Linked DNA regions of Homo sapiens. The protein of the gene in region 1 purifies or fractionates together with the protein of each later gene. This does not show direct contact. Each region holds a gene or a part of one and is shown on either strand. Other genes may lie near its edges.

Region 1 (3,653 bases):
ATTGACAACTGGATATGTCACTAACAGCATACATTATAATGCTCTATTCTGAGTAAGCAAGAACCTTTGATCATTACAGATCACAATGATACTAATGCTCTACAGGGAAGTACTAGTCCTTGCCTCTAGATGCCCTCAACGAACCAGGCTTTATGAGGTCTTCATATGACTCCATCAAGACCACTACTGTCTTTGGTCTTGATCTTGTCCCAATACAAACATAATGGTAACCACAGCATAAAGATCAAGCTAAATGGTCTCTGGGAACTCTGTATTTGGAGTAGTAGAGCCCTTACCTGTCTCTGTTGTTGGGAGACTTGGTATCCCATTCCTGCAATGGGCTGATTCTGCATTTGCTGAAGTAGGAGCTTTTGCTGAAGTGGCAAAGGTGACCTTAGCAAAGGCTGGCTTGGTAGAGATTGGGCAGGCTGAGAAGATGGTTGTTGCTGCTGCTGCTGCTGCTGTTGTTGCTGTTGTTGTTGCTGCTGCTGCTGCTGTTGTTGCTGCTGCTGCTGCTGTTGGGCTGAAATTGAGCTCTGCTGCTGTTGCTGTTGTTGAGCTGAAATTGAACTCTGCTGTTGCTGTTGCTGTTGCTGTTGCTGCTGCTGCTGCTGTTGCTGCTGCTGCTGCTGCTGCTGCTGCTGCTGCTGCTGCTGTTGCTGCTGTTGCTGTTGGGTGTAGTGTAGGAGAGAAGGCTTGTTCTGGGAAGGCAAAACAGAAGGCATCTGCTGGTTCGCTTGATCTGAGTTAAAATGAAACAAAGGCTTGGTGTTGCCCTGACGGGGCTCCATGGCTGGGTGCGGGTTGTTAATAAAACTTCGACTGAGATCCTGAGGCTTTTGCTGCATGAGGACATCTAGGTGCCCACCCTGGGCTGAGGGGCCGGCCTTGTACATGTAGTTAGCCATTACTTTCGACTGGCCGCTGCCGCCAGCTACCCCAGGCATGGGGGAGCTCTGTGGGCTGAATGTCTGCTGACCAAAAGAAGGGCTGGGGATTTTCTCCTGCCCAAATGGACCTGGTGATGGTCCAGCAGAAGAGGGCAAGGCTGACCAGTTGGTAGGCTGGTGCTGCTGCTGGTGCTGCTGCATCCGGGCATGCTGCTGACGATTAGCAGCTATCTGTTTGAGCTGCTGGGCATGGGATACTTCCTGCCAGCTTGGCAAGGCCCGGCTTGCTCCGGAGCCTGTCTGAGGCTGAGCCTGGCTCTGAGGGACTGAAGGGATTGGAGACGAAGTGGAGAGGGCAGAGTTGGCCATGGAGAATGCGGGGCCAGCTGATGGGGGCCTCAGCTGAGGAGAGCCTGAGGGGCCCTGAGTCAAGCCCGGTGAGTATTCACTTTTGATCACTATTTTCTCCATGGGTAAGGAGGGCCTAGGTGTGCTCCTCTGGCTTTGCTGACCCAAGTCAATGTTAAATGGGTCATCCTGCTTTATGGTGGCATTGATCATGTTCTCCAGTTCAAGGTCACTCATGGGAGGCACAGATATGTTGGTCAGTTCATTGAACAGTTCCTGCAGCTCAGGATCCATCAGTTGTTCTCCAGGGTCGTCTCCGTACCTATTAGGAAAAATATTCTCTTGGGTCATTTGGCCATCCATGTGCTTACTGCAAGACAGAGTCTCTCCTGGCTCCTTCTTTACCTCCTTTAAGCCCATGTTAAACAGGCCATTGCCAGGAGAATGTGTATGGGATGGCAGAGTGTTAGTCTTTCGCAGGGGTGCTTGGCTCATAGGCAAGGTCCCTGACATAATCTGACTTTGTCCATTGTTTATTTGGAGGCCACCTTGTCCTGCAGAGAGATTCTCCCCAACACGAATTCTTTTGATATCAAGAAATGAGTTGTCCACAAAGCCATTGGGTCGCTTGCTGTTGGCAGGAGATAGGTTAACTACCTGTTTTCTTTTCAAGGAACCCTGGAGCTGAAAGACAGAAGGGAATAAAAAGGAAAAATAAGAAATATGAATCCAATGATGCTTCTCATAAAAAGTGATGTGATATTTAAATGTTTCTTCTATTTACACACAAGATTCAGTTTTTTAAAAAAATGGCACAGAGAGAGCACAAATGAAGCACAATCTGGATTATAATAAAACTCTCAGTAGCACAAACACAACAAAATAAAATATTTCTGGAGGAGCAGATCAATTAGGTTAGAGATCAGTGGTTCCCATGAGTGGTTCATAGGTCAATGGATACAGATTCCTTCAAATATCATAAGAAGTTATTCACAGTACCTAAGATTAAAGCATTGTTATTTTCTGGAGCAAGCCAAAATATTCCACATGCATGCACACACAACTCCTCGCAGCTACAGATGATCAGAGTGTGCACAATTTTAAGCAAGATAGAAAACACTCACAAGTCTAAAGCTGGGAACAAATCTCTAGTTTCTTTTTTTTTTCACAGACCCAACCCCTTCATCACTATTATCCTCTAAGTAAGTAATTAGAATAGTTCTCAGGCCTAAGGAGATATGCTATTATTGTTCATCTACTTTTCTTCCTATAATTCCACTGCTTTGCATCCAAGCCTATGTAGCAACCTTATGTGGACACACAAAAGTCATGAGATGATCATTCCTCATATGAGATACTTTAAGCACTGATTTTCCTGGGAATTCATTTCTTCTGTTTCCTGTAACTAAATCTCGTTACCAAAACGAAAGTGTTAATTGCTTAGGCTCTGGAAGCAGACAAAACTGAGCTCAAGTGCCAATTCTGTCACTGGGTGCTATGTGACCTCAGCAACTTACCTGAGCCTCAATTTTCTCATCTAGAAAATGGGGACAATAGCACTTAACTCACAGGAAGGGATGAGATAATGCATATAAAAGTTTAGAAAGTGCCTGTTACAGTAACAACTCAATAAACAACAATTTGTAGAAAAAGTATGGCTTACTACATGCTGAAAGGGGAGCTTGTCTAAACAGCAACATGTTTAAGTTTTTTTGTGACTGTTAAAGTACTTCATTCACAAACTAGCAATCAGATTATACTTTATGAGCCTTAAAATTTACAGAGAAAGTCTTAAGGGCCATATAAGCACACTAATACATTAAAAAAGAAACATAAAGCATTCATCATTCGTCCTCATATCCTTGTTGATTTGTCTCTGAAGTGAGAGACCATATCTACCAAAGTGTGGCTTTCCCAGTGCTGCAGACCCACTGAAATTATTCAATGTTTTCTCAGCATAACTGTAAAATACACGAGGCAAGAAAACATTTCCTAGATAGAAAATTCTATCACTTCTCCTATCTTCTCTTCTCACTTATGGCTGCTCTCTCACCTGCCTGAAGATTTCTAGGTAGACTAATCAAGAAAAGGAAATTAACATAACTGAGTATATATTACATATCAAACACTTGAATATGGTTACTTTATTTCCCTTAATCTGCACAACAATCCCATTAGAAAGGTATTATTACCCTTAATTTATAAATAAGGAAAGCAATACTCAGAGAGACTAAGTAACTTGCCCAGGGTCACACAGCTAGCAAGTGGGCTTTAACTCAAAGTTTGTGTGGTTCTAAAGCATATGTCATTTACACTCTAACATGCTCTAATTAGTTTGTTCAGGGCTAGGATCAACCTAGTATAAAGGGGCCAGGGGCAGTAACTACAGAGACATCCTAGATTTCAGGTAAAATG
Region 2 (3,653 bases), on another chromosome or scaffold:
CTTTGTTTTCCTTCTATGTCATTTATTTGTTGAAGAAACTGGATCATTTTTCCTGTTGTGGAATTCCATATTCTGGGTTTGGCTGATTATATGTTTCTCTGTCTCTCTTACTTTCCATGAACTGGTGGTTAGACATAAAGACTTTCAGAACTGATTGGTAAGATATACATTTATTTCCATTGGATTGGAAGTCATAATATCTGATTATCCCCTTTTTTTTTTTTGGTCATGTTGAGATTGATTATAGTAGTTCAGCTGTTGTAAGTCTATTCCACCCATAAAGTTCCTCAGCAAACTTTAACCTAATGGTTTTAATAGTCATTGATGATGTTTAAATCCATTTCATTAAATGCTGCAAAATGGTGATATTCTAATTTTTTAAATTCTAACTTCTGCATTCGTTAGCTGGAGTTTTTTCTACAAAGAGGGACTTTGCCATATCAGCTATTTGCTTCAATTGTAATATGTAATGAAAAGGCAGGATTAGGTGCTTGTTTACTCATTTGCAGAATAATAACATTCCTTGAAAGTGACCAGTGGGGTTTTAGGGTTTTTGTTTTGTTTGCTTTCTTTTCATTTTGTTTTATTATGAGATCATGGTTTTTGTTGTGGTTGTTGTTATTGTTGTTGTTTTGTATTGGTTATATTTTAGTCCACTCAGTCCACTAATATCACTTAGTTTTTATTACGGAAAAATTTCAAACACTCTCAAGTAGACAGAGTTGCACCATACAGTGAAACCTCTTATGTTCATTCTCTAACGTCAACAGTGATCTTAACATTCAACCAATCTTATCTTCATCTATACCTGTACTCCAGCCCCACTTTCTTCTGCCCTTATTTTAGTTTGATGCATATCCAATCAGTGTTCAAATTTAAAATGGTCTAAAATATTTTAAAAATCAGATTGCTTGAATCAAAATTCAGATCTACCACTTAGTACAGTTTATATTGTGATATGTCCTTGAGTATAATCTATGGACACCCCCTCAACTCTTGCAATTTATTTAAGTAAGTTGAAACATTTAGTCACTAGAGATTTCCACGTACTAGATTTTGCTGATTTCATTTATTTGGTATAGTTTAATGTATTTTCTGTAAATTGGTAGAGTCAAAAAGAAATAGAGCGTGGGCCTAGTTGGAAAGACAGATTTCATTCAGTACTATTGCAATAGGGGAAAATAGAACCAAGTTCCATTTCAGAATACAACAAAGACACTTGGGGATGAAGCAGAGTGAGAGGGTCAATGGATGGAAACTTTCTAAAAGGAGACATCAAAGGTAGAAGGTTTCTTTCTGACCTGACTTAGGATTCCTGCTAAAGGCAGGCCAAGGTGATCATAGATCCAGAGTGGGAGATAGTTTAGGAGGATTCTTACTATATATAACTGAGCTAAACAGACTGATGACGGGGCTCAAGGACAAATACTAGTTGATTGCTCAGAGCAGCCTGCTTAAAAGTATGGTCAAGGAGAGAATCTTTAGTGTAGAATGGTGATCAGATTTAAGTTTGTTGTCCTTTGGTTCTTGTTTTCTTTCTGAAAAGCAAGACCTGCTTCAAAGGTGGTGGTGTGCTCTCTTGCACTAGGAGGTATATTATGTCTTGTATTCAGGCTATTTGCATTTCAGATTACACAGTTTTATGTAACTGCTTTAACTTTGTGTTTGTACTGAATATTAGTTTCTTGATGGCAGAGAACATATTTCACTTTCAGAATGTTTTTCTGCTTACATGGATTTATTTTCAAGAAATTTCATACAATACTTTATTTAGAAGAAAGCAGAATTTTCTGAAATCACAGTATGCAGAGGCATTTACCATCAACTCTGACAAACATCCTTCTGGTCCCTTTTCTATGCATGTATTCTGTGGAATTGGATGCAAACACATATTAAAAATATATACATTTGCCTAATGGAACCACAGCATACAGAGTATTTTATAGTCTGCTTTTCCATTCAGTGATATTCCAGGAAAATATTTTCTTATCAGTGTGTTTAGATACACATCCTTTCAATAGGTCATCATTTAAATTTCTACTGTCTAACATTATTTTAAAAGTAAGTTTTTCTCTAATAATCAGCACCACATTAAACATACTGTGTAGCTTTCACTTTAAAATTATTTTTATGGACATTTGATATCATTAGCTTGACATTATTAATAACAGTTACCTTGACTTTTTGATATCATCTGTACTGTCTTGGAAAGTGAAAATATTTGTCAAACTGTTAAATGATAAGAAAGAATAATTATACACTGCCAAGCAGAATTTCCTTCTTTTGCTCCCTCCCCACCTTCTGCTCCAATCACATAAATAAGAGCTGTTTTTTCTTTGCAGTATGCATTGCCTCAGGAACAAAGGTGGCTCTGTTTAATCGACTACGATCCCAGACAGTTAGTACCAGATACTTGCATGTAGAAGGAGGTAATTTTCATGCCAGTTCACAGCAGTGGGGAGCCTTTTTTATTCATCTCTGTGAGTATAAAAGTGTGCATTTAATGTTTTTAGTGTGAAATTGTTAAAATCTTTTGATGAGATACATGGATATATTAAGTTTTGTCATTTGCCTAATCATAAAATAAATTTAAAAAGATGACAATTTGATTTATTTTTCCACCTACTGCAGTGGATGATGATGAATCAGAAGGAGAAGAATTCACAGTCCGAGATGGCTACATCCATTATGGACAAACAGTCAAACTTGTGTGCTCAGTTACTGGCATGGCACTCCCAAGATTGGTATGGCTCTACTTTTGCTTTAGTGATAATGTGAAGTAAAAATTAATTTCTTAAACAGGAAAATCACAACATTCAAATGGAAAAACACACCTCAGTTTTATGCTTTTTAATTTTAAAAGGTATGTTAGTAATCAGTGCTGTTTATAATTGACAGTTATGCTCTACCTTATTTCAGAAATGCTTTAAGGTAATAGCCAGTTTTTACAAGTACATTCTTAATGATTTTTTCTTAAATGATTTCCAATATATTTTGGTGGCAATTTCCTTTTTGGCTGTTTATCTGAAGATGTTCAGTAGAGGGCACTATAAATTACATTTCTTTTCTTTACTAATGCGGATAAACCGTATTCATTTTTTTGTGGTACCTGCCATATCCCAATGTAGGACCAAGTTTGCAAACAGAAGACATTCTTATTTCTTTTGAAATATAAGCGTAATTTTTGTTAGCTTACTCTCTCACAAGAAGATAGATTTATTAAAACTGAAATAAAATTGGTATTTCTAACTGGGAGCAGGGCATAGGATTTAGGGCTTTTGTTCAATAGAAGACATTGAAACTCGGCCACGCATGGTGACTCACACCTGCAATCCCAGCACTTCAACAGGTGAAGGCAGGAGAAGGAGAAGTGACTAGCCCTGGCATCACTTGAGCTCAGGAGTTCGAGACTAGTCCTGGCAACATGGTCAGACCGTCTTTACCACTGACCCCGCCCCCCCAAAAAAAAAATTAGCCAGGCATGGTGGTGCACACCTGTAGTCTCAAGCTTAAGTGGGAGGATCACTTGAGCTCGGGAGGTCAAGGCTGCAATGAGCGGTGATCGTACCACTGGACTTTAGCCTGGGCAACAGAATGAGATCCTATCTCAACAACCACAGAAAAGGAGATCTTGAAATTGTAAAAACTACTTT

The links. The genes of interacting proteins can lie anywhere in the genome.
Region 2: the proteins of MAML2 (region 1) and RBPJ purify together in Homo sapiens (affinity purification with western blotting; one study listed by BioGRID and IntAct). This does not show direct contact.

Annotation. Positions count from the first base shown.
Region 1 is NC_000011.10:96,091,596-96,095,248, forward strand, and holds part of MAML2 (mastermind-like protein 2), read right to left. Parts: intron 1,923-3,653; coding exon 297-1,922; intron 1-296. UniProt on the Homo sapiens protein: Acts as a transcriptional coactivator for NOTCH proteins. Has been shown to amplify NOTCH-induced transcription of HES1. Potentiates activation by NOTCH3 and NOTCH4 more efficiently than MAML1 or MAML3.
Region 2 is NC_000004.12:26,422,000-26,425,652, forward strand, and holds part of RBPJ (recombining binding protein suppressor of hairless), read left to right. Parts: intron 1-2,342; coding exon 2,343-2,480; intron 2,481-2,631; coding exon 2,632-2,744; intron 2,745-3,653. UniProt on the Homo sapiens protein: Transcriptional regulator that plays a central role in Notch signaling, a signaling pathway involved in cell-cell communication that regulates a broad spectrum of cell-fate determinations.